2 separate regions of the Homo sapiens genome follow, and region 2 is linked to region 1. Evidence: fine-mapped expression QTL. A gene starts in region 1. The other region holds a variant in brackets. All regions are shown on one strand. Distances are between the middles of the regions.

What was found. PIP is the estimated chance that this variant, and not a neighbour inherited with it, causes the effect. A credible set is the group of variants that fine-mapping cannot tell apart.
Region 2: its variant is the best candidate, but not a certain one, in a credible set for the expression of OCIAD1 in whole blood (INTERVAL, PIP 0.87).

The regions. Positions count from the first base shown.
Region 1 is chr4:48,829,700-48,832,618 of GRCh38, forward strand. OCIAD1 (OCIA domain containing 1) reads left to right here and starts at 1,389. Exons shown (of 9, transcript NM_017830.4): 1 at 1,389-1,550. RefSeq lists enhancers at 957-1,336, 1,179-1,742, 1,743-2,305.
Region 2 is chr4:48,863,259-48,866,177 of GRCh38, forward strand. No RefSeq gene overlaps it. Among named protein-coding and RNA genes, the nearest start is that of OCIAD1-AS1, 4.5 kb to the left of the region's middle. The variant C/T (reference allele first, on the strand shown) is at 1,467.

The DNA of each region.
Region 1 (2,919 bases):
AACAGCAATTGCACAAGCCCTGGGCCCAGAAGTAAATTAGCTTGTCCCAGGAACAAAATGAGTATTAGTTACTAATACTGATTATCTCAGGGATTTATTTGGTTCTATAAAGACTTACAAGCCAACATCTCTGTCCTAAAGGAGCTCTGTAACAGAGACAGACGTAAGTAAAAAAGATCACTATTCAGTGCAAAAGTACATTGCAGTGACAGCAGTATGGACAAGCTAAGGACTAAGAAGGAAGAGTGATTACTTCTCTGGGGTGTATTTCAGGGAAGGCATCACAAAGGTGGTGATGTAAAAGCAGAATTTTGAAATATCGTTAGAATTGACAAAGCAGGGAGTAGAGTTGTACTGGGGAAACAGTGCACAGAGAACACTGAGGGCAAAGACCTCCAGGCTGTTTCTTGTTAGTGAACCCTGAAATAGAAGAAAGTGACGCTCAAAAGGCACAGGCACCACCAGGCCATGATGGGCCTTATATTCGGTGCATGACTGGAGCTATCAAAAGACTCCAAGGAAGGAAACACAGCGTTGGATTCGTTTCACGTGACTGTCTCCCTTAAGTATGTCTTCGGGAGAATAAATGTTAAATGATAAAGTGGCAAAGGGGCTCAGAAAGAGATGAGAAACCTGAGAGGCTTTGAGGGGTTGACAAATAGTAGGACTGGATTTGCCCACTGTTTAGTCACTAATAACTTGCAGTACATGGCACTAATAAATACTTCAGGAAGGAATGTATGAAAATGAGTAAAATGCTGATTGGCTGGGTGTGGCAGCACCATGTCTGATGTGTAGAAGTCGTGAGCCCCCTCATTAATAGACAGTGATGTGTTGTTTTAATTCTAACAACCCTATATGTAATTCCACTTTTCAGGTGAGAAAAACCGTAGCCTCAGAGAGATCACGGTACCCTGCCAGAGGTTGTAGAACTTGTTGGAAACTTGGATCAAGAGGGTGTGACAAATAACCAGGTATGCATGCTTAAAAATTACTTTCTACTACTTAGCCTACAGGCTCAAAGAATGAAATTATCTCATAAAAGAGATAATTTATAAAGTCGCTCTCAAAAGAGGGACAACAGAGGGTTCCGGAACGTTCCCGCCAGCCGCCACGAGAAGACCAGAGAGGTGCATCACAACAGCCCAAAGTCAAGCCTACTCCCAACCCCCTTCCCCGCCATCCAGGGAAGGGGCGGGGCAGGGTTCTTGGTCCGCCGCTGTCGCCTGCGCAGTCGCAGTGCGGCTCGTGGCCGCAGCTGCCTGAAAGGGCAAAGGGACGAGTATACGCATGCGTCTATTCCTAGGCTGCTGGCTCTCAGACCCGCAGTGAGGTCTGACGTCATTTCCTGCCGTAAGTATACAGTGCCTCCGGGTCGCGGTCATTTTGAGCCCCTGTCTGGATGACTTCTTGCGGCTGTTCTACCCCTCCCCCTCCCCGCGGTACCTTGCACTTTTCTCCCTCCCTGCCCCCTCTCGAGTCCACCCTCCGGGCCTTCTGCCCCTGATCGCTTGGTTTTCCTTGCAGTCGCCTGCTGCTGTCGTCGGGAGGTGGGTGAGGTGACGCAAACAGCCCCGTTGTTGCCCTCCGCGTATCCCCTCACCACCTTTGCGGCCATCCACGACTTTCGCACCTTCCGCCATTTTCCTGCCTGTGAGGGTGGACAGATCGCGCTCGGGTCTCGGCCTCCTGAGTGCCGGTGACTGCGGGAGGCGACGGAGTGCTTCTGGGGGTGTGAGCTGGGGAAGTTCGTGGTCACGGATGCGTGTGGGGTTGCTGCTCAGTCTGTAACGGCAGGTGGGAGACGGACACTGGGTGGAGGATGGAGTGCGGTAATCAGCGGTTGTAGGCCGCTTAGGCTTTAATCCAGCGTTGTTTTGTGTAAAGAACTTAAAATGGTATTGTCTTAAGCGCCGTGTCAGCCCTGACAGTCTTCCTGGTGTTTCTAGGAAGGATGCCGTTATGGGAAATAAGAGGGTTTCATTTTTTCTCATACGGTTGTAGGGTAAAGGTAGTTTATTCAGCAGGCTCCATCCATCCATGAATTCAGCTGACCTTTTTTATTTCTTTTCTCTAATTAAGGGGTTGGCATGTAGTAGGCCTTCATGGCTTATTGACTGAATGAATTATGGAAGGGCTCAGTTGCTGTCCTCATTGTGTATGCCATTTCCTGTTTCCATGCAAATTGTTTTTAAAATGAGAATAATCATGATCCCACGTAAACGTTCTGTAAAATACGGTTACTTGATCTGTTGGTCTGAGTCCCAATATATGAGTTTTTAAAAAAAGAACCAAATAAAAAATGTATATTCTTGGAATTTTATGCATTTTTTTCTTATATTCTTGGGGTGGAAGGAAATTTGGAGATACAGAATTTGCTGTTAGTTTTACCTCACAGGGAGAAGGATATGTCGTCTTTGTTATTCCATAATTTTGGAGTGCTCCTTTGTGGGAGAGGTTGAATGTTTCTGATGATTATTTCATTTTTTAATATGGAAGCTCAGAAATGACTTGAAATTTTTTTTCTCTTCTATTTTGGGGAATTATCCTAATCATTGGGCATAGATTCGAGAAACGACCAAAACATAGGATGTGAAAGAACCCACTTCCAGGAGGAAAAAATATGTCTGTTATTTTATTGATATCTTGATAGTAAAAAAAATTATAAACTTATAAAACGCATATGCTTTTTCAATTAAGGGACTTAACCTGAATAGTGAGTTCCAAATTAATCAGTAGGTCTGTTACTTTTTCATCTAGCTATTTACATGTGGAGTACGTAAGATATAGTAGTGTTTAATAAATATTTGTTGATTGATTGCTGTGTAGACTAGTAGTTTTACTATATCATACGTCTTGATTTACTTTGACCTATCTAGTGATAGTTTCTAATACTTAATATGTAATGTTTTTGATACA
Region 2 (2,919 bases), 34 kb after region 1:
CCTTTGGGCTTCTGCTAATGCCTTCCTCGAGGCCCTTTAGGATTTAACTAGCAATCTCTTCATGATCCTGGCAGCATCCATCTGCTACTTGGTCCCAAAGTGAATGCCATATGTCTTAGGTTCTTGTTGTGGCAGGACCTCACTTCCAGGTACAAAATTTCTATTTTAAAATTATTATTTTGGGGGGTACACACGAATATATATGGGTTACATGAAATATTTTGATACAGGCATGCAATGTGTAATCACATCAGGATAAATGGGATATTCATCCCCTCAAGCATTTATCCTTTGTGTAACAAATGATCCAATTATACTCTTTTAGTTGTTTTAAAATATATAATTATTTTAGACTATAGTCACCCTGTTGTGCTAGCAAATACTAGGTCTTACTCTATTTTTTTGTACCCATTAACCATAGACCCACTGCACCTGCCTGTCCCACTTGCAACTCACTACCCTTCCCAGCCCCTCGTAACCATCCTACTGTCTATCACCGTGACTTCAATTATTTTAAATTTTAGCTCCCATAAATAAATGAGAACGTGAAATTTGTCTTTCAGTGCCTGGCTTATTTCATTTAACATAATGAACTCCAGTTCCATCCATGTTGTTGCAAGTGATAGGATCTCATCCTTTTTTAAGACTGAGTAGTACTCCATTGAGTACATGTACCACATTTTCTTTATCCATTCATCTGTTTGTGGGACACTTAGGTTGTTTCCAAATCTTGGCTATTGTGAATAGTGTTACAGTAAACATTAGAGTGCAGATATCTCTGATATACTGATTTCTTTTCTTTTGGGTGTATACCTAGCAGTGGGACTGCTGGATTATATGATAGCTCTTTTTTTTTTAGTTTTTCGAGGAACTTCCAAACTCTTCTCCATCATAGTTGTAATAATTTGCATTCCCACCAACAGTGTATGAAGATTCCCTTTTCTCCATATCCTCACCAGCATTTCTTATTGCCTGTCTTTTGGATAAAAGCCATTTTAACTGACATGAGATGATATCTCATAATAGTTCTGATGTGCACTTCTCTGATAATAATGTTGAGCTCTTTTTCATATACCTATTTGCCATCTGTATGTCTTCTTTTGAGAAATGTCTATTCAGAGCTTTTGCCCATTTATTATAATAATATTACTATTTTGTTCTTTTTTTCTTCTTTTTATTGAAACAGGGCCTTGCTATGTTGCCCAGGCTGGTCTCAAACTCCTAAGCTCAAGTGATTTGGCGACCTTGGCCTCCTAAAGTGCTTGGATTACAGATACGGGCCACTGCACCTGGCCTATTGTTATTATTATTTATTTTTTTAATTTTATTATTATTATACTTTTAAGTTTTACGGTATATGTGCACAACGTGCAGGTTTGTTACATATGTATACATGTGCCATGTTGGTGTGCTGCACCCATTAACTCATCATTTAGCATTAGGTATATCTCCTAATACTATCCCTC[C/T]CCCTTCCCCCACTCCACAACAGTCCCCAGAGTGTGAGGTTCCCCTTCCTGTGTCCAAGTGTTCTCATTGTTCAATTCCCACCTATGAGCGAGAACATGCGGTGTTTGGTTTTTTGTCCTTGCAATAGTTTGCAGAGAATGATGGTTTCCAGTTTCATCCATGTCCCTACAAAGGACATGAACTCATCATTTTTTATGGCTGCATAGTATTCCATGGTGTATATGTGCCACATTTTCTTAATCCAGTCTATTGTTGGACATTTAGGTTGGTTCCAAGTCTTTGCTATTGTAAATAGTGCCACTATAAACATACGCGTGCATGTGTCTTTATAGCAGCATGCTTTAGAATCCTTTGGATATATACCCAGTAATGGGATGGCTGGGTCAAATGGTATTTCTAGTTCTAGATCCCTGAGGAAACACCACACTGACTTCCACAATGGTTGAACTAGTTTACAGTCCCACCAACAGTGTAAAAGTTTTCCTATTTCTCCACATCCTCTCCAGCCCCTGTTGTTTCCTGACTTTTTAATGATAGCCATTCTAACTGGTGTGAGATGGTATCTCATTGTGGTTTTGATTTGCATTTCTCTGATGGTCAGTGATGATGAGCATTTTTTCATGTGTTTTTTGGCTGCATAAATGTCCTCTTTTGAGAAGTGTCTGTTCATATCTTTCACCCACTTTTTGATGGGGTTGTTTGTTTTTTTCTTGTAAATTTGCTTGAGTTCATTGTAGATTCTGGATATTAGCCCTTTGTCAGATGAGTAGGTTGCAAAAATTTTGTCCCATTCTGTAGGTTGCCTGTTCACTCTGATGGTAGTTTCTTTTGCTGTGCAGAAGCTCTTTAGTTTAATTAGATCCCATTTGTCAATTTTGGCTTTTGTTGCCATTGCTTTTGGTGTTTTAGACATGAAGTCCTTGCCCATGCCTATGTCCTGAATGGTATTGCCTAGGTTTTCTTCTAGGGTTTTTATGGTTTTACATCAAACATTTAAGTCTTTAATCCATCTTGAATTAATTTTTCTATAAGGTGTAAGGAAGGGATCCAGTTTCAGCTTTCTACATATGGCTAGCCAGTTTTCCCAGCACCATTTATTAAATAGGGAATCCTTTCCCCATTTCTTGTTTTTGTCAGGTTTGTCAAAGATCAGATGGTTGTAGATATGTGGCATTATTTCTGAGGGCTCTGTTCTGTTCCGTTGGTCTATATCTCTGTTTTGGTACCGGTACCATGCTATTTTGGTTACTGTAGCCTTGTAGTATAGTTTGAAGTCAGGTAGCATGATGCCTCCAGCTTTGTTCTTTTGGCTTAGATTGACTTGGTGATGTGGGCTCTTTTTTGGTTCCATATGAACTTTAAAGTAGTTTTTTCCAATTCTGTGAAGAAAGTCATTGGTAACTTGATGAGGTTGGCATTGAATGTATAAATTACCTTGGGCAGTATGGCCAT